7 linked regions of the Homo sapiens genome follow. The gene in region 5 interacts genetically with the main gene of each other region. Each region holds a gene or a part of one and is shown on either strand. Other genes may lie near its edges. The genes, in order: SRFBP1, SERINC2, TMEM132A, ZFC3H1, HAPSTR1, PROKR2 and ZNF175.

Region 1 (3,500 bases), on a different chromosome or scaffold from region 5:
GTATCTCTATTTCTGCATGCCACACAAATCCAGTTTGATTTTCATCCTCATCAGTCTACTAAAAGATGTCACTAAGGACACCAATGAATTCCAAAAAAGCCCCTGAAATCCAATGGAAATTTGACATTTTTGACCACTTTCTCTTTCTTCAAACATTCTTCCCTTAGTTTTCCAAGATAGTTTTCTTCTTTCCTTTCTACTCACTCTATTTTGATCTTCTTTGAAAATTCATCCACCTCTACCCAGTCATAAAATGTTAAGAGTTGAGGGGGCAGTCCCAAGCCAGTGTTTCTTTTCACAATACATTGTTTAGCCTTAAGAGATCTTATGTGTGCATATTTAATTTGCCACCTAAACAAAGAGGAGTCAAACATTTTACCTTCAGCTGAGATCACTCCTTTTAGCTTCAAGCCCAAATGTGCAACTTCCTGCTTGACATTTCTTTCTGAGTGCGCTCAAAATCACCTCAAATTCACACCTAAATTCATGTTCTTCACCTCCAATAAAACCCTTCCCTTCTTTTGTGGGGAGGGGGGGTTTCATATTTCAGAGAATGGAACAATCCTTTTAGTTATACACCTAAAGGTCTTTAGAGGTAGCTCTCTTAATCCTTCACAATGAATCTCCAAGTCCTATTAATCTTAAATCCTAATTATCTTTCAAATTGTACCACTTTTTTCCCTATCTTGACCTTTTTGCAATCTTGGCTGAGTTACTGTTAACCGGTTTCTCCACACCTGTTCTTCTTGCCTCTCTCCAATCAGTTATCCACAATGCCATCGCAATAAAATTTTTTAAAGTATATATCCAATGTCGTACCTTTAAGTAACTCTCTTTAACGGTGTCCAATTGCTCTCAGAAGAATCACATTGGCCTTTCAGTCCCCTGTCCTCACCATGCTCACGTCTACTACAAAGCCTTTACACCTACCATTTCCACTGGTCAGAATGTTCTTTTTTCCCATGTCAACTTGTTAACATCTATTCATCCTGATTTTGGACCAATTGTCATTTCTGTGAAGTCTTTTCTGGCTTCCCTGAGAGGGTCACAAGTACCTTTAATTGGTAACTTAATACTTTACTTTTAATCTGATTATTTTTAATGTGTCTTTCCCCAGTAGGTTATAAATTCTGTGAAGTTGATCAAGTATCTGGTTTTATTCAACACTGCATCTTAACACCTAACATAGTGCATGGCACACAGTATGTGTCCAATAAATATTGGTTAAATAAATGACCAGAAATGTAGCAATACACACTGTCTATTCACTGTTTCAAATGCATAATATATTTTAAAAATGCACAGTAATCAGGTTTCTTTCCTGCTAGATAAGTTAACCTCTTAGGAATTTGTTTCAAAGACCCATTTAGAAAAAAAAATCATACTTTGCATAAATGAAAAGGCACACAGACAAGGCTTAAGGAAAAAAAAAAAGAACGGCCACGTTGCATAAACAGAATTATACAGTGTCATGATACATTTTTTAAAGTTAAGTTATTCATAAAATAAACTAATAGCAAGCGATGAACTGCACATTAAAATATATTAACAAATGTTTCTAATTGCTGAACTTTGCAGGTGCATGAGATGATAATATACCATTTGCTAACCACTGTTAACTAAACTAATAAACTGCAGTGGGTAGAGTTGGTCCTTGGTTACATTCCAATCATAACAAAGCTCGTCTCCAATTTTAAAATTCCAATTTAAGAAATACTATGTTTGCCATGAATGGATAAGGGAATTCTAAAAGCAAAAGGAATACCTCATATACTTAAGACTTAGGTTTCCCCAAGCACTTAGATTTTTGCAAAACTGATGACAAATATAGCCTTTAAGTTAGGATTTAAAAGGCTGCCAATTTATTTGTCACCCAGGAATTGTAAAGTTGGCTGACAACCCAGAAGTCAATGAACAGGCCTAACACACCAATACTGCCAGAAGTCCAAGTGCACTGCTTAATGGCAGTACATTTTGGCAAAACTCTAACCAAAAGCAAGAACTATCATTGTTAGAATTGTAAAAACAGTATGATTATTGTTTGGGACGGAAAGAACAGAGGAATAGTGTGAGCACAGAGAAAACAGAGGCATAGAAATGTAAATAAAATATGCTGACACAGAAGAAAGAAAATGAAAGACAAGTAGAAGGAAGGGGTCTGAAGACAGAAATTGAAGGGAAAATCTGAGGCCATCACCAACAAGACTGATTAAGCCAAGCCAAGGGTCTTCCAAACAGCAAGAGAATGCATTTAAGACAATCTATAAGGTCTGAAGAAAAAGAATTAAGACTTACATACCCAGCGAATATATATGTACTGACAGTGAAGTATCGCCTAGAAATTAGACATACAGAAGCCTTTAAAGTTAACCTGGCAAAATCTAAACATAGGGCATCTCTTGCATAGACAGTATAAAAATACTATAAATAAAGTGGAAGTCTAATATAGCTATTTGAGAAAAGACCATGTGAGATGACTCAGAAGAGTCAACATAAACACAGGAAAGGAAACCACAGAGAGGCAAAAGTTGGCAGTGTCCAGCTCAAGGAAATTCCAAAGAAAGGGTTCCCCAGCTCAGAGACTTGAGAAATCTAATCTGTTCTGGAATAACTCAATTATGGGAACAGATGCATCACAGCTCAACATGAATCATGCAACTAAAACCCCTTTCTGTATTTCTACATACCAAGCAGCTGATGGTCAGTATACAGGAAAAGAATGTGTTTTACAATGTGAGCATTTATTACGCATATTAGACACGTTTTTTAATAAACTAGCTTTCTCATTCACACAATCTCTTATACATTTAGGTTTAACATGAATTTGCTTTTTAGAGAATGAGCTCTATTTCTGGGGTGACAATGACGGCAAGTTTCTGATATGCAAAGCAGACAGGAGACTTTGGTCCAAAGACAAAATTAAATGCTACTTGAATTGACTTTTGGCTGGCTATGTGATAGTTGGCCAACCAGTTAGCCTCTGAAAATTCACCAACTTTACCATGTTTTTGAGTTAGCCTGTAACAAAAATCTATAGTTATTAGAAAATAGTTATTCTAGGAGCTAGTATTGTTCCAGGGGAACTTGCAGTGTTAAGAAAGTGTTTCTAAGAATACTAATACTTCTGCTTATTCATTAATTACCTATCAGATTAGTAAATACAAAAAAACTACGACAACAAATTCTTTGTATGAAGTTGGAGGAAACAGACAAATACACTGCTGGTAGAAATGCAAACTGATTTACTCCTTTGGGGGAAACCATGCTGTACTTTAACAAAAGTCCTACTTCTAGGAATCTATTCAGAAGACACATTCTCAACAATAGGAAAAGGCTACACACAAGATTATTCATTGCATCATTTTAACAAAATGTAGCATGAGAGAGAAAATAACGTATATAAATAAAGCATATAGCAATGTAGTATTTTAAATCAATGCAAAAGATCTGTAGGTATTACATGGATAAAACCTGAAAAGTAACATTTGGTGAATAAAATA
Region 2 (3,500 bases), on a different chromosome or scaffold from region 5:
GGACCACAGGCATGCACCACCACACCCAGCTAATTTTTGTATTTTTTGGTAGATACAGGGTTTTCTCATGTTGGCCAGGCTGGTCTTGAACTCCTGGGCTCAAGGGATCCTCCCACCTTGGCCTCCCAAAGTGCTGGGATTATAGGCATGAGCCACCATGCCTGGCCATTAGGGGAAAATTGAAAATAACAAAACGCCCATCAATACATCATGGTATTCCATAAAACGGATTTCTCTGCTGAATGGGGCAAATATGTAGGTAACACTTAACTTGGGTACATTTCATTGTATACAAATAATACTTCAATTAAGTTAAATTTACAAATATAAAAATAAAGATTTTTATATAAAGAAAAAACTTAAATAAGCTTTAGGTTTTGTGAGCCTATTGGAGTCTCAAGAAACTACAAAAAACCTAAATGTCTAACACCTGGGGACAGCCGTGGCCCTTTCACTCCATGGAATGCTACAGAGCCAGAAAGATGAATTCCCTGGCTACAGAGCCACATGGAATAATGCTCATGATGCAGTGTGAAAGGAAGGCAGACTGGAAAGCTGTTCCCACACTACGATTACAACCACTCCCCTCTTCCTGCAGATGCACTCAAGGGCAGCAACAGAAAAGCCCCAGAACACTTACAGTGGCTGAATCTTAGTACCAGCCCAGGTTCTCAGAATGGAGAACTCAGAATTTAAGAAGCCCCAGGCCTCAGAGCCTTACAGCTGCAAGGTTCCTTGGCATTCAACCAATCCATTCTCTTTCCAATGAAGAACCACCCAGAAAGCATCTGGCCATCCTCTGCTGCTTGCACACTGCCAATGACAAGGAGCTCACTACCTCCCAAGGCAAGGCAGACAGCTCTGGAGCCATGAGTCGTTTGGCATTATGTGAACAGGCTGTCACTGAGTCATTCACATTGTCTCCTGGTTGTCCTCAGAGCCAGGGACAGAAGTTCTTAGAACCACTCATAGGGTGTTGGGTGGGTAAGGGAGGCAGCTGAGGGCTGGATGAATTTTTCTATTTAAAACAAACTGGCTGTCTGGGCGTGGTGGTTCATGCCTGTAATCCCAGCACTTTGAGAAGCCAACACAGGCAGATTACCTGAGATCAGGAGTTTGAGACCATCCTGCCAACATGGTGAAACCCCGTCTCTACAAAAAATACAAAAATTAGCCAGGCATGGTGGCAGGCATTTGTAATTCCAGCTACTCAGGAGGTTGAGGCAGCAGACTCGCTTGAACCCGGGAGGCAGAAGTTGCAGTGAGCTGAATCGCGCCAATACACTCCAGCCTGGGTGACAGAGCATGAGTTCGTCTCAAAATTTAATAAAATAAAATAAAATAAAGTGGCCCTCCACTTCTGGATATATATCCAAAAGAAATGAAGCAGGGACTCACATATTTACACACCCATGTTCATAGCAGAATTATTCACAGTAGTCATAAGGTGAAAACAAGCTAAATGTCCATTGGTGGACGAGATGAATGGATAAACAAAATGTGGTATATCCATATCCATACAATAGAATATTATTTGTTCTTAAAAAGGAATGAGGCCAGGTGCGGAGGCTCATGCCTGTAACCCCTGCACTTTGGGAGGCCAAGGCGGGCGGATCACCTGAGGTCAGGGGTTCGAGACCAGCCTGGCCAACATGGTGAAACCCTATCTCTACTAAAAATACAAAAAAATTAGCTGGGCATGGTGGTGTGTGCCTATAGTCCCAGCTACGCGGGAGGCTGAGGCAAGAGAATTGCTTGAACCCGGGAGGTGGAAGTTGCAATGAGCCGAGATTGTGCCATTGCACTCCAGCCTGGGCAACAGAGCAGGACTCTGTCTCAAAAAAAAAAAAAAAAAAAAAAGAATGAAATTTTGACACATGCTATAACATGGATGAACCCTCAGGGCATTATGCTAAGTGAAATAAGCCAGACACCAAAGAACAAATATTGTATGACTCCACTTAGATGGAGAGAGTAGCCAAACTCATAGAGAAAAGCAGTGAATTGGTGGTTACGAGGGGCTGGGGAGTTACTGTTTAGTGGGAGTTTCAGTCTGGGAAGATGAAAAAGTTCTGGAGAAGGATGGTGGTGATGGTTGCATAACAGTGTCAATGTACTTAATGCTACACTTAAAAATTGTTAAAATGGTACATTTTATGTTATGCATCTTTTACCTCAATTTTTTTAAAAGGGAGGGGGCAGGGAGTTTTCAAAGAAGAGCAGGAAGAGGCGAGAAGGGTATTCCCAGCAAAGAGAATGACACATGCAGAGCTACAGGGACACTGTATTTTCAGGGCAGCTGAAAGGGTGAGAAAAGCTACAGAGGTCACGGAAGTGGTGGTCAATGTCCCTGTATGCCATGCCAGGGAGTCTGGACTTCACCCTGAAAGCAATGGGGAATGATTGCGAAAGAAGAGGAATGACAGCAGATTTGCATTTTAGAAATATCACTTTGATCACAAAAAGACAGGTCATGGGGTAGTGTGTGGTATCTTTGGGGGAAGGGAGGAGAGTCAGGGGCTGTTGTCAGTAATCCAGATGAGGGCTGACAGTAAGAAGATGTTCTGGAGTTACCGTGTGCCTTAGTTGGCACTACTCCTTCTGACAATGCCATTCGTTTGGGATTAATTTTTATTAGGGTTGTATTTATTAGATCTCCATTTTAATATACATGTCTTCTAAAATAAATTACAGGCTGGGTGTGGTGGCTCATGCCTGTAATCCCAGCACTTTGGGAGGCCGAGGCCAGTGGATAACTTGAGATCAGGAGTTCGAGACCAGCCTGGCCAACATGGTGAAACCCCGTCTCTATTAAAAACACAAAAATTAGCCAGGCATGGTGGCGCACGCCTGTAATCCCAGCTACTCGGGAGGCTGAGGCAGGAGAATCACTTGAACCTGGAGGCAGAGGTTGCAGTGAGCCAGAATGGTGCCACTGCACTCCAGTCTGGACAACAGAGCAAGACTTCATCTCAAAAAAATAAAGTAAAATAAAATAAAATGAAATAACATACAAACTCCTTGAAGACTAAAATAAAAGGTTAAAAGAGTAAATTTTTTAACATGTATTTCGTCACAGTTTAAAAAATGCAAAACTGGCCCAGGCAAGCATGCACCTTGCCGCCTTCATGAACAACTCCGTAACTGGCTGAGCCGCCCCAGGGCTAGTCAAAACACAGCAGAGAAGAGGTCAGCCGGAAATGTCCCAAGGTGCACTTACTTCCCCCATGCAGTGCCAAGAATGCAGGTCCTAATGCTGGCTCTGCCACAGCTTGTAATCTGACCTCAGGCAAGTCTCTCCTCCCCTCCATGGGACTCAGTTTCCTCATCTGTAAAATGATCTCCTGGGGTAGGAGAGTACAGGGGCTCCGAGCCCAGGCTCTATAGTTAGGCAGCCCTGGGTCTCACTGGCTTCAGCACTTCCTTGCATGTAGTCTTGAGTCATGTACTACTGTGGGGTGTTTATGGACCGGCCACTGCACACCAGCTTGGTGCTAAAT
Region 3 (3,500 bases), on a different chromosome or scaffold from region 5:
GGGATGGAGTAGTGGCTATGAGGGCTCTACCTGGGGCACAGGATTGGTTGGCATCTCTTAGAATAAGACTCACAGACACTTGCTATGCCTGGCACATGGCTGGGGCTGGGAAGATAGTGGCCGAATGAATGAATGAAGGAATGGATTATGCCTGCTTTGTGCTGCTTCCTTGAAAAAATCTGTCCTTGGGTCTGCTCACCTGGGGATCTAGAGGCAGCATGGCAGCCTCCAAATCTGCTCAACTGCACTCTATAACCAGCCCTCCCTCCTTTGCCCCCTGGGTGGAGGGAAACTGCCCACCTGGAATCTGGCTCTGTGAGCCCAGCACGGTGGCAGGTGATGAGGGTGGTGTGGTGCCTGGAGCCCTTGAAGCGGTCCAGCTTGGCAGTCCAGAGTGTGGGCTGGGCTGGGCGGGCGGCTGTCACATGCAGCCCCTTCTTCACCTTGATCCTGGGGAAGAGAGTATAGGCTCAGTTTGGCAAGGTGCATGCTGAACTGTGGGCTGGATTGAAGGGGAAAGACAAGGAGCCAAAGCCATCTGACCTCCCTGGCTCCAGTCTGAATCTCCTCTTCACCATCCTCCAACCCAGAAGGACCCCGCCTCAGTGCAGCTCACACCTTACAGCTCTCCCCCACCCAAAGACCACTTACGCCTCCCCACTGCCCATAAGGTCAAAGCTTAGCCGGGCATTTGGGGGCCCTCCAGGGTCTGGTCCAGCCTTAACTTCGGTTGTGACATCTCTCCATGCACTCTCTGCTTCAGCTACACACAAGTTTCCCACACACACGGCACCCATTCGTGACTCCAAGCCTTTGCCCAGTCTGTGCCTTCAGCCTGCTCTGCCCTTTCTTACTTTACCTGCTGATGCTTTAAGCCTCCAACAACTCACAGACCATTTCCTTTAGAAAGCTTTTCCAGTGGTGGGATGAATTTCCCCCTTACTGCACCCACTCACCTGAGCTCCCACCGCACTTTGAACCTCCCTCAGTGCTTACACACCCACATGCCTTCTAATCCAATTCATGCCCATCCAGCTCCCTTCCCTACCACTGGGGCCCCTTTCTGCCAGATAGGGACTGGCCCTTGCTCGTGTTTGGATCTGCAGAGTGAAGACACAGGGCTTGGCAGGCTGTAAGTGTCTAGGAAAGATCTGCTTAATAAGAGTGAGCATAGGAGGGCGTAGGAGATGGGGAGACACAGAGACGGGACATGCACAAACCCAGGCAGGGCTTGAAACTAGGTCTAGGTTTCAAAGCATGTCCACAGACCGCTCTTCGATCCTCAGGAAAGATATCATTACAAAGTGAGCAAGTCCCAGTGCCTCACCCTAACCAAGCCCAGGACTATCCTGCCTAGAACTCAGGCTTCTCAGAATCTTAAAGCCTAAGAGATGCCTCTCCCATGGATTCCTGCGCTGGACTCCAGAAGCAAGTCATACTCTGCAAGCCCTTGCCGGGTGAACTGGGTAGGTGGGTGGGGGCTGCTTTGGGGGAACTTATTACGGAAAAGGACACAAAGAATCAGGGCCTTCCTATGGGGAAGAGCAAGCTCTGTCCAAAGGCTAGACTCCTACGGCGAGGGTGGCAAGGAGGGACAGCATGTAGGTGAACGTGATTGGGGCAAATATCCCTCTCTGGAGCACTGGAGCAAGAGCTCACACTTAGGTACTGCAGTCTCTAAGCCCTTTGCGGGTTCCCCTCCCTGGAGACTTGCAGCTGCCCTGAAGGTGGACCGTTAGCCCCATTGGACAAAGGAATCTCAGGGAGGTGCCAGGGGAAGGGGCAGCTTCCTACTTCTGACTCTAATTCCAGGGCTGTGCCCATGGTGGGCTCCTACCAGCACAGTCATGGCTTTTTACCTGGAAGGAGTTTAGTTTGGTGGACACATGTTTTGCAGAGGTCAAGGATTCCAGCAAGGACCCCAGGAGGAGCAGGTACCTGTCCCTAGTCTTCCCACAGAGGTTCCCACCCTCACCCATCCCCGTGGCCTGGTGCTCACCGCAGGGTCAGGAGGCTGGCTGTGAAGTTGTGCCGAAGCAGGAGGGTAGCACTAAAGAGCTGGCCGGGCCGCACTGGCATGTCAGGCACCCGCAGAGTCACAGCCTCGTCCAGAGGTACCTCCTGGTACTGCGGGGGGTCTGCTGGGCGCAGCTCCACACCCCCCACTGGGAGGGCCTGCTCCCCAGGGTCGTTCTCCTCGCCGGAGCCACAGCCCCCAGGGCCCTCAGCTGCAGGCTCAAGCGTGTAGGCCAGCTCGGCCCGTGTGGTGGAGGCCTGTGAGAACCAGTGCGAGGGAAGCTCCAGCTCCACCACGCAGGCGCCCAGGGATGGCTGTGAAGACACGACAGCAGTAATTGGCATGGGGGTGGGTGCAGGGCGAGGAACAGGATTCTCAGCACCCATGGCAGGAAACCCAGAGCTGGAGGGGCTCATGAAAGGGAGGCCCAGCATGGGCCGGAGACACAGCCTGAGTGACACAGCAAACCAGCAACCTGGCTGGGGCTTCAAACCAGGTCTAGGTTTCAGAGCATGTCCGCAGACCACTCTTCAGCCCTTGGGATAGGTCTCATTACAAAGTAAGCCAATCCCAGGGCCTTACCCTAACCAAGCCCAGGACTATCCTGCCTAGAATCCAGTCTTCTTCTCAGAATCCTAAAGCTCAAGAGACGCCTCTCCCATGGATTCCTGTGCTAGACTCCAAAATAGTGGAAATAGCAATTATAAAAGTAACACTACTAATAATGCAAACACACTGGCTGATTGATTACTCTGCCGTAAGCTATCCTTACATTCATCTCACTTGTTCCTTACTCCAACTCCAGATGGGGTAGGAATTCTTAACACCCCATTCTTCAGATGAGGAAACTGAATCTCAGAGAGATTAAGTTACTTACTCAAAGTCACACACCAAGGACTGAACTCCCTCTGGGGCCCTAAATAACCTTTTCACAGCACTGAAAGCTAGTGGGGGCAGAAATGGAGTCGGGTGGTCCACAACCCCCGCGCTTCCCAGGAGTGGGGGTTTCCTCTCTGCCGCGGGCCCACCACCTGGCTGATGCAGCTGCAGCAGGACCAGCCTAGGTGGGGCCTGTCTACTCACCTGGAAGCGGCAGGCTTGGTGAGCAGTGCCGGCAGGGTGTGTGGCATGGAGCCGGGCACAGGGCAGGCTGCCAGACCCTGGTGGCCAATCCTGCCCTTTGAGGTGGAAGAGAACCCGGGCGTAGGGCTCTGCTGGAGTCACAGCCGCTTCCACTGAAACGGCCCGCACGTCCCATGGGACTGGCCGTTGGTGGGGCTCAGTGACTCGAGGGGGGACCACCTGGAGGGAGAATGAGAGGGCTTAACAAAAGAGGAGCTTGGGAGGGGAAGATCTAGGAAGATGGGATCCCAGCTTGGCAGAAGAGAACCTTTATGGGCCTCAGTTTCCCCCTCTGGAATATGGGGAGCACAGCCGGGGCTGGGGAAGGCTCCCAATTTGTACCCAGCAGACCTCAGGCCCT
Region 4 (3,500 bases), on a different chromosome or scaffold from region 5:
ATAAATTTTAAAAATTTGTATTTATATGTGAATATATGTGTGTATATAAATAAACCAAGGGGTAGAAAACAGGACAGCTAAACTTCATAGAAATTTATCATAACTGTTTGAATAAAAGTAGCATTAAATTTTTGTTTTTACCGAGATCACAGTTCGTGGAAGACGGGGTCCTCTGTGAAACTTTGGATTCTGTATCCTAGGCTGAGACACTGTGTTAATACTGACTATTGATAGATTGCTTCTTGGCACAGGATGTGAATTGTTCAGAACTGGAGGTGAAGGTGGGTCACTATTACTGGATGTTTCCTACATAAGGAAGAGAAAGACATTAAACATTCCTAAATAAAAATAAATTTCTGCCACCTTTAAAAATCTTGAGCATGTTAGAATTATCCCCACTTTGCTGAAAAGCCCAATGATGCCCAAGTAACCAGAAAAAAGTAGGACTACCGTAAAGCTAAGCTCAAGAGCACCACCTAGAGGTTTAGGTACCTAAATTACCTCTGGCTTAAAAGCTCTTTTATTTGCTAGAGATTTAAGTAGTTCTTCTCGAAGCAGCATTTCTTCCTCCTCTTCCTCATCTGCAAAAGGTGGTTTTGGAGGCTGTTCTGGATCTTCAGGTGGGAGAGGTGGTAATGGTGGTAGAGGAGGTAGAGGTTCAAGAGAAACACACAAGCCTTCCACATAAGGCTGGCTCAAAGGTGGCAGAGACTATTTTTTAAAAAAAGAAAGAATTACAACGCAAATTTTATCAACTCAAATGCTTCTCTCTGCAGCAATATTAAACTAGAAAAAAATAAACTTTACATTATTATTTTAGCTGTAAATATAGTAAGCTAAGTATATGTTAACCTCAAAACAAACCAGAAATCAATAGCCAACCACGAAAAAGTGTTATTTTTACAATTTTAAAAAAAATCAACAATATTTGAAACATTTATTAACTTCAAGGAAAATTATAGAAACTTCTCTGTTCCAATTCTTATATCCATTTAGCATTCTAGAAGATATAGATATCAAACTATACAGGGTCCTTCCTTCTAGATGACTACCTGAAAGCAAGTAGAGGTACTGAAACCCAAGACATAATATTTCAGTAAAAAATAAAAATTAGAAACCAAGGGATTCTGTGAATAATAGTCCAGAGTACTTTAATCATTAATTAAGTATCAAGAAGAATCACCACTACTCTCTTAAAATGGCTTCTTAAAGAATATCTATAAAGGAAACTAATTTTACACAAATCCCTAAATTTGGATATGTATTTGCATCAAAGATCTTCCACTATTTCCCTTGGCATTTAGTTCATTTATTCATTCCCAAAAAGAAAACATTACAACGAAGAAAGTGCTGTTTTCTCTCTCACTATCGGCTCTAATATTCCCCTCACCATATATGTTCTAGAAAGACACTAGACGTCTTTCCTGAAACGGAAAAGTTCCCTCTTACACCTACTGAGAGATACTCAATTTGATCTCTAGGTCCTCTCAATCTAAAAATAATGTCAAAACTTTTAATGTGTGATTCCTCTACTTCCTTTTTTTCCTTTTCCTTTTATTGTTTTTATTTTTTTGTTTTATTTTTAGTGGGAGGACTGGAGATGGGGGGGAAAAGAAATTAACTTCATAGAAAATGCTTTTCTTTTGCTGGATTTTCAAGTTAAAAATAACCATTTTTATGAAAAGAGGAGAAAGGAGAGTATTAATTTTTAGAAGCATCCTAATGCATGTAAATTCCAATTCCCTAAAAAAGAGACAGTCCAAAACAGTAGATAACTTCTGTTTTTGAATAAATTTTCTGAGTAGCTACTATCTGAGAGTAAAGTGAAGAAGGAAACATGATAGGTACCGAAAAGTCAACATGAAATTAAAAATTAGCTATGAAAAAAATCTACCAAATGGATAGCTTGCTGGTATAATCAACTGTTTATTCTACGTATTTCATTGCTATTAATTCTTGGTAAGCAATTCTGATTTTTTAAGCCCTCTTCAAACCTAACCATTCGTTTTTAAAAACAAATTAGAAAAGACAAGACAAAATAATTTTCTTAGAAATCAATTCTGACTTACAGAAACCTGAGGTGGTGGAGGCAAAGAAAGAGATGGTGCTGGAGAAAAATACCCCAATGAACATTCAGAGAAAAATGGCGGTTGCACTGGTGAAGGAGCTGTAAAAAAATTTTTTGTTAAGAGTTTAATAACAGAAATACTTCATCAGGAATATATTAAGTTTATGTTATGTTTGAAGAAATACATCTAGGTGGAGTGCAAATTAGATTTTATCAACCTCTGATAAAATCTTTAAACCCCTCATGAGTCCACCTCCAGCCATTTAAAATTGTCATATCATCATAAAGTCAGCCATTCACTTTAAACTAATAATTAGTCCCTCAAAACTCTCACTTTGTTCCACTTTTAACCTAATGATGAGAACAGGGAATAAAGCAGGAAAAGACAGAAACATACTTTAAAAAAACAAACAAAAAAAAACACAAGCATATTTTTTAAGAAATAATGAAACAAAAAATTCCCTTAAATTCTGCCAAAGTGCCCTAGCCAAAGGAAAACAATGATGTGGTGACTTCATTATTCCCTTCTTGTGGAGCAAAAGAAAGTTGAGGACATGGACCATATAAGCTGTGTTGAAAGTAAATAAAACTAGGAATGAGAAGAATTACTTAGTGTATTTAGTCAATAAGGTGCACATTTTTTCACATTTTAATTTTGAAATAATTACAATTGATGCATCTCAGCATTTTTCTTCCTTGGTAGCAGATAAAAATAATTGTGTATTTTATCTTCAATGACTTGTTAGGCTCACTGAAATACAGCAGTTTCAAAGACTACTCTTACTACCCTACCCACTAACTATATAATCAGAGAAAATCTAACATTTCTTCTTTATCCCAGTTGTCTCACAAGTCAATACATTATTATCCACATGCCTTATATGGGGTTGACTTGAGTCCCAAATGAGATAATCTGAATATACACTAATCTTTGGAACATTTTACATAGCGCTGCAGATGTGGCTGCTGTGTCACATTTGTGTTATTAGGTGGCAGAGAGAAGAGAGGCTATGTCTATGCTCAGTGTTCTGCCCCATGAACATTTGAATGTTTAATAGTCAGACACTTGATGGTGCTATTGTTTTATGGACTTGGCATGTTTTCCCTTCCTAGTATCTGGGAGAGAGGGTGGACCTAGTGAGTGCAGTGATCTCCGAGGAAAGCCCTCCAGGCTGCACTATCCTCATCCAGATTTAACCAGCCCTGACTCACTGCCAGGTGCCAGGAGAGGCTTCTGAGGACTTTCTGACCTTTGTGTTGGGTCAGCCACTAGGGGGTCTGAAAGGACAGTGGGAAGGTAGAGGGTGCCCTCAGCAAGAGTAGCCTTCATTCATGAATTTTAGAAACTAGTGGTAGGAAAGATGAAGTCCATTATGTGCTGGTTCATGCTACCCACCATGTCAGGATCATCCAGGAGGACAAAGAACTAGGC
Region 5 (3,500 bases):
TAAAATTCACATCGTTTCTGATTAATTTTGAGAAGAAAAGCCTCAAGATCTTTCCCACCTCGACACCTAAGCCCTAGGTCTTAGTGGGGGCGACGTCGTAGACAGAAATCCCACATCTAAAAATGTGAGAGCATAGTGGTTAAGGGTATGCATTTTGAGGCCAGGCATCATGGCTCATGCCAGTATTCCCAACACTTCGGAAGGTCGAGGTTGGGGTATGGCTTGCACCCATGAGTTCGAGACCAGCCTGGACAACATGGCGAAACTCCAACTCTACAGAAAATAAAAAATCAAAAATAAATATATTGAAAATTAGAAATTTTTTTAATTAAAAAAAAATTTGCATTTTGGAGACAGGACTGGAGTATCTATTCTACCACTTACTAACCTGCTCCATATCTTAGCCAAGTAAGGCTTTCTTCATCAACAGTGTTAATAACCCAGGGTAGGTGTGAGGATTAAATGACAACCTCCTTAGTGTGATGCTTTTACAAAGTAAACACTGAAAGAGTAGGTTTAATGGTTATCACCCTAAGGTCCCATGGAAGTCTCAGTTGTTCTAATTCAAGATTACCATGTAGCACCCTAGGCAAACAGGTTACATTATTCCCTGATTGTAGCTATCTGGGGATTGTAATCCTCAACCCTTTCTAGAGGTTCTGGGTCCCCACTGTGTTGTATTCACTTAGCAGACCTCTGTGATAACCCCAGTGGTAAACTCAGACTACACCTATGTCAGGTTCTTTGCTATGTTCTGTTAAAGCCAAAAAAAAAAGGACCAAGACAAGGTCCCTGCTATGTGTCCCGAGGAGAATGGAACAGTCACAGAAACAAATCAAGCAGCAGAGCAAATGCACAGTTCAGGGAGGCTACAGAGATTGGGAGCCCTGAAGCAAGGCTGTGTCACAGAAGTGAGGTATGAACACGTAGGGGCTGGACTTGTCAAAGAGCATAGAGGTATTCAAGAGATAAACAGTATGGGTAGGATACCTAACCAATGGTTAAGACTGGATCATAAGGGTCTTGTAATACCATGCTGAATTTGGACTTCACTGTGTAGGCCCAGGGAAACTTTAAACCATGAAGTGACAAGACCAGAAAGATCACTCCAATGGTCTCATGAAAGATGGACTGGCAACAACAGCTCAGGACTGGAAAGTGAGAGCTGAAACATTAGGCCAAGAGCCCAGGCTCACCTCCTCCAGAGGGCCTGCCCTGAGCACCACACAGCCGGGCTGTGCTGTGAAACATCCCTTTCTGCTCTCAGAAGACCTTCCACATACCACATTCATGACGTGAATAGAAATTAACCAAATCCATATTTTGCCTCAACAGAAAAAGGAATCGCTCTATGTTTATGTATTTCCAGAGACAGCACCGAATCTGCCATATAGAGAATGTGCTGAATGGCTCAATGGCTCAATGAGTCATTCTGCTGTTGGGGCAGAAGAATGAGTCCAACCTGAAACTTCATCTGAGATAAATGCCTGTGGGACAATTTGGAGATGTACACCGGAGGACAGTGGGACATGCCATCTGGCAGTCAGGAGAGAAGGTCTAAACGAGAGGTCCAGATTTGGAAGTGAAGACATGGGAAACGTAATCTAGGGCAGTGACAGGGCCTGAGGACAGGTCAGGCAGGCCAATGTGGCAGAAGAGAAGCCAAGGTAAGGAGAAGCTCTAGAAAAGGGATGAACAGAGGACCAATGAGAATGGCAGGCAGAGATCCACAAAGTGATCCAGAAGATTTCTGGTCTCAAGTATGCTGTTTACATAAAAACGAGTTACCAGTTGTTGGTATTAATTCAACTCTTGGGAAATTTATAATAATGTTATTTTATAACATTATTATAGGATAACAAAGCAAGACAGAAATCAATTTAGCACATGCATGTTTATCTCTTTAATTCCTCTGTGAATCTAACATACAGATGACTAGGTCCCATAGGACACAGGAAAAAAAGCAACATGTTGCGAACAAGTGTCAAAATAAAGCACTGAATTAGTCTTTAAGCCTTGCTAACCACTAATTGAAGTAGCTTTGATAAAAACTATTTGAGGCCAGCACAGTGGCTCACACCTGCAATCCCACCACTTAGGGGCAAGCAGTGAGGCTAAGGCAGATCACTTGAGGTCAGGTGTTCAAGACCAGCTTCGCCAACATGATGAAACCCCATCTCTACTACAAATACAAAAATTAGCTGGGCGTGGTGGCAGGCGCCTACAATCCCAGCTACTCGGGAGACTGAGGCACGAGAATCATTTGAACCCAGGAGGCGGAAGTCGCAGTGAGCACTACACTCCAGCCTGGGCTATAGAGCGACACTCAGTCTCAAAAAAAAAAAAAAAAACCTATTTGATAACCATAAATTGATATGCCTTACTTTTTTTTCTTTAAATAGGGAGAGGGTTTCACCATGTTGGCCAGGGTGGTCTCAAACTCCTGACCTCAAGTGATCCACCCACCTTGGCCTCCCAAAGTGCCGGCATTATAGGTGTGAGCCACAGCACCCGGCCAATTGATATACTTTTGATTAAAGCTGTTTACATTAGTCTCTCCCACTAAACTGGGTTCCCAGGCTTACAAGGGCAATGACTGGGGATCTCATTCATTGTCATACTCTGTCTACACGAAATATTCAGCAGGTGTCAAGTCTGCCATTTTCCTTTAAATTAAGAACACAGTTATTTGGTTGGGCTGTATTTGATGGGGGTAGGGGTAAGGAAGGGGAAAAAAACTGAGGGAAAACTGTCCTCTCTTAAATACATAGGACATGAAGAGGAACTGAGTTTGCTTTCATTATAAACTCAAGCCTGCCTCAAAATACCAGATTCTTTTCCCATGTCCTTGTGCTTGCCAAACGCATGAATTTAGACTCACCCACAATGTAAAACTCCAAAACCTTCAATTTGGCCTAACTTAGAATTCATAAATTTGGCTAAGCAAATAATATGCAAGAGTGAATTGTGACATTGTATTTACCCTAACTATGGTGTTTCCAAATACATTTTAAAAGAGCACCTTAACAGTTTTCACTTCAGACAAATCAGATAATAAGGACACCCAGTTGAAGTCACTAATCTATGTTACTAGTTAATAATGGCCCTAGTACTAGAACCATTCAAATTACTTTCTTTAAATATTCAAATTAAACTACCATTCTCCTTAATACACTGATGTTCTCACAAACCAGTACAGCACAACTCAGTATAATTTATGTTTCTGTAGATTCTTTCAAGGGGCCCTATTACTTCACCACAACACTGTCTTAACCACATGAATTAGAGGTATGAACCCTAAGAGTAAGAATGCATTCAGTCTCCAATCTATACTGGATTAGTGCTACATTATAAATTTATTGAAGGTAAAGATCATTTTCTTCCTAGACAAAGCCTTATATTTAAGTTTTAAAGCCTCACAACTTAAACATGTGAAAATTATAAACAGTCCCTTCAACTGTATCATTGCTTAAAACTCCCAAAGTTCAGGAAAACAATAA
Region 6 (4,137 bases), on a different chromosome or scaffold from region 5:
AAGTTACCGATGCCGCAGACCAGCATGATGCCTGCCAGTGCAATGCCAATGACGATCTTGGCTGCGAAGAAGGTCCGGGTCTTGGTCATGTCCTCATCCTCATCCATAGGGAGGTCATAATCACCATAACTGAAGTTAAAGGAGAGGGAGGAGGCATGGTCTTGGGGTGGATTAAAGTTGGGTGTGAAACTGGTGTTTCCATTCTGGGCTGCCATGGTGATGTCTGCAAGAAAAGTGGTGTGAGGGAGGTGCGAGGGGTGAGGGTCCAGACCTTCTGCTCTTTCAGGGTCAGTGAGCCTAGCACCCTGCCCACATCCTTGGGGAGAGTTGACTCACCGTCCTGGATCCTGGAAGGAGGCACAACCAGTGGGCAACATGCAGGAGAACATCTGGTCACATTCCCTGAGTTCCCCAAGTATAGGCCAACCAGACCCACTGCCTAACCAGATGGAACTACCCGGGATGCGGGGAGAGGAGACCTGAGATCTGTAAGTTGGGAAACCCTCCGTGGCTGCCCAGCTGTCAGGAAGGACAGCATAGGATGGATCAGACTGTCCAGAACTCTCAAGAAGAATGTGCACCTTTGCCCTTTGCCCAGGGGCCAGGGCCTCTTTGTCTGCCCAGTCACATCCTCCAGCCCCCAACACATCAGCTCCCACAGGGGCTTCTGGAACATTTCCAAGGATGCTCCCATGAGCTGGCCAGGCTCCTACAGCTGTCACAACGTTGTGGCACCTGTTGGCCAGGGACAATGAAGCAGGAGGGCCAGGATGCTGCGGGGTCTTCTCTCCAAAGCAGGACACCACTCCTTCTGTACTGACCAAGCCATAGACTTGGAAATCACCAAGTTCACTTTCACATGGACAGACTGAGTCACCCTGGGCCAGTGATTTATGCTCTCTGAGTCCTAATCTTCCTGTAAACCAAATTCCTGCTGCCCAGTCCAGTGCCTGGTGCATAGTGGGGGCTAGACAGACATCTGTTGAGTGCATGACCAGGGCGCTGTAGGTGGAGGAGGTGGTGGTGGGGTGGGGGAGGGGAATTCCCCTGCTGCTCCCCGTTCTGTGGGAACCAGCTCCAGAAAGAAATCCTCTGCCGCCCTTCCCACCCTACTCCAACTTTGGATCTGCTCTCTGACCTCCTTCACTTGGCCCTAGTTCTCCACCCAGAGTCAACCCTGCCTGAAAGGCACCATGTCCTGTCACCAAGGTCTCAAAATAGGGAAAATAGTCTCTGAAGCCCTCAGCCCGCAGGAGATAGGGCACCCCAGGGTACAAGGCTTCACCGAGGGGCTGGAAAAAGAGCCCAGATCCCAACACCTATAGAAAGGGGCCCTGGCTGTCCAGCTGTGAGTGGCCTTCCCCTCGCCTCTCAGCACACCTGGAAACGACTCCACATGTGGGCGCCGCGGGATGCTGGGTAGCAAGGAGATGACCCAGCTGAACAATGCATTTGGTCCACTCCTGCGAGGGGAGGAGAACGCCGAGGGACAGGAACTGCGCGCCAGCAAAAGACACCCTAACCTGGGGTGCGCCCGCCAGCTGCTTTCCCAAGGTGAAAACCTCCAAGAGGCGAGATGCAAATCCCAGTGGCGTCCACACCCGGAGGTGTCTTCTCTCCAGGTCGCCCCTCCGTCTCATGCGACACCCCAATCCCCGCAGCCTCTGCTCAGCGTGGGACCAAGAATGGGGAGTCCTACCCCTCCTCGGCTTTCCAGCCCCCTAACCCAAGACAAGAGGGCGCGCGCCCGGGCTGGGACAGGTCCCAGCCGCATTTTCGTAGATTGCACTCCCCGCCCGGGAGCGACCCGTTCCAGCAGCCCCCTTCCCGCCCCATCAACGCGGCCGCACTGTCGGCGTCTAGAGGCGACATCCTGGCAAAGACAGGAATCAAGTCAGAAATTCAGGCTCTAGAAGCAAAGGCTGCGGTGCCTCCTGGCTGGAAGAAAACGGCGGGTGGGTGGAGGATGCGGTGCGCGGGAATTTCCCCACGGACGCTTGCTGTTTCCTGCTCACCTTTCAGGAAGGTGCCCCTCTACCTGCACCCTCCCCTGCAATTTGGAGCTCGTCCGCGAGCTCAGCTACCCGCTGGCTCCCTCTGCCCGCGCCCGCACACCACAGACTCCGCTTACCGTACCCTACCCGGTCCTAGAGGGCCCAGAGGGGATCTCCTGAAACCAACTCGCCTGCTTGGAGCCAGCCCCGACGCATATCTCGAGAGTGGCGGGAGGCAAAGCAGCCGGAATGCCCGAGAAAAAAGTGGGCGTCAGAGGCCCTTGTCCTAGCGACTCCCCCACCGCACCGACTGAGTCCCGGGACTGCAGGGATCTAAGCCCTTACCTGTCTCGGCGCCTCCTTTCTGTGCGCTCTGCTGCTCCGGAAGCCGGATCGAGAGTCACAGTGTGGTTGGGCGCAGGCGGGCCGCTCGGTTTTCACCTCGAGGACCCGGACTTGCACTTGCAGAGCCGCTGCGTGGGGGATGTCCCTCTTTTTTCCTCGCCCCGGCGGGCTCCTCCGGCGTGTCAGGGTCTCTGGGTTCCAGCTGGAGTTGGCGCTCCGGCCCCACAGCTCTTTCCAGCGTCTCGGACCTGTGCGCCCCGCCCCGCGCTGGACTCCGCCCCGGGGTCCCCGCCTGCCTCCTAGTCCAGGCCAAGGGTGGATGCCCAGCTCCCCCACCCCACCGCGTGCTCTCGGGCTGGTGCGTCCAGGGCGCGGGCACCGTAGCTCCGGCCGCGCTGACGCGAGTCCCCGGCAGCGGGGGCAGCCTCTCGCACGGATTTCAGCGCCTTCGCATCCCGTCTGAATCGGACCACACAGTAGCCGGGTTTCTACCGTGCGCTTGGGAACAGTGAGCACCGCCCTCTGCCGCCAGTCGTGGCACCGCACCCGGGTCGCGCGCGCAGGAGGGGAGAGTCCTGTCTTCCGGAGGTGCCCAGTGCCAGCGTCCGCGCCCACTAGAAGGTGACCCTTTCAAGGAAAGCCCGGCTCCGACGAGTGCGGTGTGGGCCTTTGGAGATGGCGGTGAAGGAGGAGGCCCCCAGGAGGAAGCTGGGGATGGGGACAGTTTGCTCTGCTCAAAGCCCCTGAAGTCCTCACCCAAACTTTGCGATGACCACCACTATCAGATTCCATGGCCGTATAAAGACAATCCCAGGAGTGCCTCAGCCCATCTGTCCGGAGAGTCTGGAGCCCTTCACTTTGCTTCTGACAGGTTCGAAATCCTCCCACGACCTTCCTGGTTAAACACAGGAACTGCCCATTCAAATGACTGGTGCCCAGGAAGCTCTGGGCATACAGGATTGAACCTGTGGCAGGACCCTGAAGGTCTAAAAAGGTGTTCCCCATCGTTAAACCCCAGCCAGCGGATTATTGGCAGGTGGGAACATGGACTCCACTTTGTCAGAGCTTCCCATTGTTTTCAAGAGAATCTGGAATTCGAGAACTTTAAAAATAGTCTTTGGGTTCGTTAAAGCAAAAATCTTGTTTTGGTCAAAGAGAACCTGTCTCAGACTGAACACAGTCCACAAGGCTGCCAATTAAAAATTTTTGGATAAATGAACTTCAAACTCCTTCAGGTTGTGACATTCTGTGATTCTGCTTTTCCCACCTTACCTGGAACCTGACCCCACTCTCCCTACCTCTTAGCATCTCTCCCGCATGATCAAAGGCAAGAGAGCCAGCTGTTTGCTTTCCTCCTGGGGAGGGGCTGCGATTGGGCAGGTGTTCTACATGCTCAGGGCAACTTCCAGATATGGAGGCAAAAAAGCTCTGTTGCTTGAGTGGGGGAGATGATGGGGTGGCCAGTTGTACGCCCTGGACACATTCTTTGCAATAGTGCATACTTACCAACTTCAGCTAGAGGCTTCTTCGCTCATGGACCATGCCTGCCCTATTCAATGGGGGCAAACAGACCCCTGGGACCATCTGCCCGCTGGTGCTTTCATGGAATCCTCTGAGATGAGTTAAGGCATGGTTGCTTCCACACAGATCTGGCGACCCACAGATGTCGCTGTAGTAACTCCAAGTCCTGACCACCCTCAGCAGAGTAGGAGCTTTTTCTGGGGATGGACATGTGGTCCCCAGGGAGACAGTGGGTGCTTAGAAAACAGTGCAACAGAGTGCTACGGGGAGTTGTCTT
Region 7 (4,110 bases), on a different chromosome or scaffold from region 5:
AAAGACTTGTAAATAAAGCATCAAGAGATACACAGAATAATTTAGGATTTCAGGAAATCTTGACTATACCAAGAATTCTGATTTCTTGTTACCAAATCCTGACTATTTCTATCTGTGGGCAATCTGGAAACACTGTTTTCCAGCATTTTTTGTTCACCTTTTTAAACAGGAAAAAGTGTTTAAAAGCCTCTTCACATGGTCCTTAAAAGCCTCTTCTCACTCTACCTCCCTGTGACTATTTAAATTACAAAGGAAGGAGATTTTGCCGCACCTTATGAGAACAGAGGAAAAACGGGCCAAACCCCATGGACCAAGCAAGGAATTTGGTGGGGGGGACCACTTGAAATTTTTCAAAGACCCAGTGGTGGATGAAGGAGCAGAACCAGTGCTTAGCAGGAAAGAGTCAGCTTTTCCATCCTATGACTGGGGCTTCTGATCAGACCAGGGACTACAGTTTCTTCTTTCTTGACCCAAGGCCAACCCTCTACTATCCTCTTTTATCAGCCAGTTCATGGTTTCCTCTAGAACACAGATAGCCTATGAATGTGGAAACATCAGCCTCTGTGGTCCTCGCTTGACAGGAGGCTCAAGACTGACTCAGGAGCAGGGAGCCCAGACCTGCTGCATCCTGTGTCTGCCCTCACGTTCTGGAGAACTATCCCCAGGGCTGCCCCTGTTTACCTCGCAAGATCCATCCTGCTTCTCTGGACCCAGGACCTGAGGCTTCTGGGATAAATTCACATCAGCAGGCATCTCCACTCTGGGCTTCTACTCTCGGTCTCTCTTGCTGACAACTCCACTTTTCCCAGGAGCCAGAAGCTGGATAGGTGTTTGGATTTTCCAACCAGGGACACGGCGGAGAGTCGTACTGGGCTATGAAGAGAGATCCTGCAGCCTCAATGATGTGGCCTGACCTGGGGGTTCTGCAGAAGCCTTGGAAAAGCAATGAGTACATGGTCACTCATTCAACATTCACTCCACAAATATTTCCTGAGGGCACTGAGGTGAAGTCACTGTGTCAGACATTGGAGTAGACAAAGTTCAGAAAGCCCAACTCTAGTTATTAGTCAGGGTTAAAAATAAAGACTGAGTCTGGACTAAATGGTGAATTCATTGCAGCTTTGCCACATTTTCACTGTGAGAATATGAAAATATTACTTTAGTTGTAGTTTCCAAAATGAAAATGCAGGTATTTATCACAGATGTTGGGAAACTTAACCAAGATGAAGCTTGTCAAGTCCTCAGTGCCTGCCTGGCACGTGATAAATATGAATTAAAAAAAGAAAGTTGTCAATTTAATTGTCAGCTAAATATCATGGGCATTATCATACCCATTTTGAGGATGAGGATAATGAGGCTGTGTGCTGTTACATAATTTGCCTGAAGGTTACTCAGTCTGTAAATGGAAAAACAGGGAATCAGCCCCACATCTGCCTTGTTCTAAACTGTACACTGTCTCCACTATCTCATGTACCCATACGTGGCCAGCTTCCAGAAACACCATTTCCTCTTTCTGTTGCCTTCATAGAACTCAGGCCGGGAGGTGGCTCTGTCTGGTGTACCTATTCTGAGCTTCTGGACTTTTCAGTCCCCGTCCATAATACACCACACACAGACCAGCCTCTTCTGACTAGAGCTAAAACTTAAAATCACTGTCCCAATCCCCATCTTGACACAGAAAATTTGCAGACATGCATCAGGGCCTCCAGTTACCATTTCTTGCCTGTCCACAATAAGTTGCCCCCACCGCACCTGAATGCAATCACTGACAGGACTGACTTTCAGAAATCCCCAATGAGTGTACTACAGGGCTGCCAGAAAGTTCCAAAATGCCTCCCAGTCACTGACATGGCACAGGCTTCTGAAATCTTTACTGCCCTGATAGCCAAGAAATGTTTCCCAGCGAGCACAATTTTCTGGTTTCCATAAAACGACAAATAATCCCCAACATAGGGGTCCAAATGAAATGCCCCAATAGGAAACCATCATCGATGTGCTCAACTGTCAATTACTGATCCTTACCATGTCCAAGGGACCCAAGAAGAGGCCAACACTGACCCACCCACCAATCCCTGAAGGACCCCAACACTCACTGCCTAGAAAGCAATGCATTCACCCTCACAAATCCCCATCATTGACCCCCTACGCCTCCAGTCAACTGGCTGCCATAGGCTACCCCTGGCAACCCCACTCTACTGATTCCTATAGGTTGCCCATCACTGGTCCCCTGAGAGTGTTACAGTGTGATCCTCAAAGTCCTCCAACCTCTGAAGCTCTTGGCTGCCAATCAATCACTGACTCCCCTAGTCCCACGGACAGTGAATCCCTTCCCTGAACGTCCTCCAGCACCATCCGCAAAGGCGCTCTTAAGATGCACGTTCACTGTCCTCAAGTTAGCAAGTTTCGTGGACCAATATAAAATCCGATATTAAAGTACACTTGGAATTTAAGTCACAAAAATACTACAAGCAGAAAATAAGCAAGAAAAGAGGGAAAATTAACAGGCTAATTATCCAACTAAAATTAGCAAACGCCACTTACCCCACAGCACCCATCACCCACCCCAGAAACCCCTCATCGCTCAGCCAAAACAAGCCCGTCACTCACCTCACAGCCTCGTCTTCAGCCGAGAAATCCCTTTATCACGCACCCCCACCCCCAACAAGCCCCTCATCACTCCCCCAAAGCCAGCCGCCCCTTCCTGACCCTACAGAACCCCCACTGCTAATATTCCCAATCACTTCAGCGTCCAGTAAGCGACATAGGCTTAGATCCACTTAACAACAGAAGCTAAATGGTCGCTCTAGGCCACTTCCGGTTTGGGTTACATTCCCGTTAGGATTTCCGTAGGCGCTGTTGAACCGCGCGCATGCCCACTAACACTTTTGAAGCTACGCTCCGCCAACAGTTATCATGGCGTATAACGGCGTACCTTTATTCCGCGGTTCATTCAACTTCAGAAACTTGGTAGGGAGGACGGCATGGCCGCACCCATACGGATTATGATATTGGAGGCCGCCATCGTCAAAGGGCTTTTATTCCGTACAGCCAAGGACAAATGGAATGTCACAGAGTAAAAGTCTTGGGTCCTACATTGGCAGGGGACCTATTCAATACTTGTGTATATATATTTCTAGGAGAAACTGACATGTATTCTGAAAAATACTTTTTCTCTATATTTTTCCCTCTGATTTAAAGACTTTTTTTTCCTGAATTGCTGAACAACTCACTGTCTTTAATAGCACTTTTGAAAATGTTATCTTTCTGAGAAATTGTATCTTTGTTATCCTTACACCATTGCTCTCTATACCTGGATGAACCTATTGATGAAGTAACCTACCAAGCGACCACCTGAAGAGAGAATTTAGGGCTCTTGGGACACTTCATTTAAAGAGAGGCGAATGAAAAAAATATAATCAAGTTAAAGGAAAAAAACACAATTACTGAGATCAATGTCAGCCAGCCCAACTGGGCAGAATTTTCAGGAAGAGGTTGTTCAATCAAATAAACAAAAATATATTCTAGAAGGTGAGTAATAGCAATCATAAAATTAAAAAAATGGCTGATTATGGGAAATAGGAGGCAGGGCTGAGTGAGGATCTGAAGGTGAAGATCTGAAATGATCCTTCTTTTTTAAAAAATAGTAATTTAAATATATTGCTTTCGTAGTTTGTGCCATTTTGTAGTTACCGATTTTACATTCTGTGTTCACAGCTTCTGCCACCCCATCTCTGCACTTAAAGCCACCATATTACTTTTAATTACTTCATACCTCATTTTTAGTCCATTTGAATAATAAAATAAGACTGCTTAGCCAATGAAGCATTTTTTTGAACATGGTTTCCCAGGAATAGTTGAGTTTTCACATTAGTATCTGAACCTAACTTTGTTACATGAAGCATGAAACCTGCTTTTATTTTAAAACATCAATTATATATTTACTGTAAGCAAATAGTGTAAAATCAATAAAAACACTTATCTTTATTATGTGAGAAAGTGTGACATTTTGTTTGAGTTACTAAGAAATTCCCCGGACTTAGAACTTTTGAATTTTCTCCACTTATAAATCTGAGACTATTCTTTACTGTGTCATAGGATTTACCCTACGGC

The links.
Region 1: changes in HAPSTR1 (region 5) and SRFBP1 together harm fitness more than expected from each alone (negative genetic interaction), as found in Homo sapiens cells (one large-scale study listed by BioGRID).
Region 2: changes in HAPSTR1 (region 5) and SERINC2 together harm fitness less than expected from each alone (positive genetic interaction), as found in Homo sapiens cells (one large-scale study listed by BioGRID).
Region 3: changes in HAPSTR1 (region 5) and TMEM132A together harm fitness more than expected from each alone (negative genetic interaction), as found in Homo sapiens cells (one large-scale study listed by BioGRID).
Region 4: changes in HAPSTR1 (region 5) and ZFC3H1 together harm fitness less than expected from each alone (positive genetic interaction), as found in Homo sapiens cells (one large-scale study listed by BioGRID).
Region 6: changes in HAPSTR1 (region 5) and PROKR2 together harm fitness less than expected from each alone (positive genetic interaction), as found in Homo sapiens cells (one large-scale study listed by BioGRID).
Region 7: changes in HAPSTR1 (region 5) and ZNF175 together harm fitness less than expected from each alone (positive genetic interaction), as found in Homo sapiens cells (one large-scale study listed by BioGRID).

The regions. Positions count from the first base shown.
Region 1 is NC_000005.10:121,968,475-121,971,974, reverse strand, and holds part of SRFBP1 (serum response factor-binding protein 1), read right to left. Parts: intron 1-3,500. UniProt on the Homo sapiens protein: May be involved in regulating transcriptional activation of cardiac genes during the aging process. May play a role in biosynthesis and/or processing of SLC2A4 in adipose cells.
Region 2 is NC_000001.11:31,416,213-31,419,712, reverse strand, and holds part of SERINC2 (serine incorporator 2), read right to left. Parts: intron 1-3,500. UniProt on the Homo sapiens protein: Non-ATP-dependent, non-specific lipid transporter for phosphatidylserine, phosphatidylcholine, and phosphatidylethanolamine. Functions as a scramblase that flips lipids in both directions across the membrane.
Region 3 is NC_000011.10:60,927,460-60,930,959, reverse strand, and holds part of TMEM132A (transmembrane protein 132A isoform b precursor), read right to left. Parts: intron 3,320-3,500; coding exon 3,101-3,319; intron 2,332-3,100; coding exon 2,000-2,331; intron 451-1,999; coding exon 301-450; intron 1-300. UniProt on the Homo sapiens protein: May play a role in embryonic and postnatal development of the brain. Increased resistance to cell death induced by serum starvation in cultured cells. Regulates cAMP-induced GFAP gene expression via STAT3 phosphorylation.
Region 4 is NC_000012.12:71,636,349-71,639,848, forward strand, and holds part of ZFC3H1 (zinc finger C3H1 domain-containing protein), read right to left. Parts: intron 3,136-3,500; exon of another isoform or gene 3,007-3,135; intron 2,168-3,006; coding exon 2,070-2,167; intron 712-2,069; coding exon 502-711; intron 307-501; coding exon 142-306; intron 1-141. UniProt on the Homo sapiens protein: Subunit of the trimeric poly(A) tail exosome targeting (PAXT) complex, a complex that directs a subset of long and polyadenylated poly(A) RNAs for exosomal degradation. The RNA exosome is fundamental for the degradation of RNA in eukaryotic nuclei.
Region 5 is NC_000016.10:9,105,144-9,108,643, reverse strand, and holds part of HAPSTR1 (HUWE1-associated protein modifying stress responses 1), read right to left. Parts: exon of another isoform or gene 1,880-3,500; intron 274-1,879; coding exon of another isoform or gene 140-273; exon of another isoform or gene 1-139. UniProt on the Homo sapiens protein: Acts as a central player within a network of stress response pathways promoting cellular adaptability. The E3 ligase HUWE1 assists HAPSTR1 in controlling stress signaling and in turn, HUWE1 feeds back to promote the degradation of HAPSTR1.
Region 6 is NC_000020.11:5,314,155-5,318,291, forward strand, and holds the start of PROKR2 (prokineticin receptor 2), read right to left. Parts: upstream 2,801-4,137; 5' UTR 2,340-2,800; intron 224-2,339; 5' UTR 216-223; coding exon 1-215. UniProt on the Homo sapiens protein: Receptor for prokineticin 2. Exclusively coupled to the G(q) subclass of heteromeric G proteins. Activation leads to mobilization of calcium, stimulation of phosphoinositide turnover and activation of p44/p42 mitogen-activated protein kinase.
Region 7 is NC_000019.10:51,569,973-51,574,082, reverse strand, and holds the start of ZNF175 (zinc finger protein 175), read right to left. Parts: upstream 2,801-4,110; 5' UTR 2,608-2,800; intron 934-2,607; 5' UTR 754-933; coding exon 682-753; exon of another isoform or gene 1-681.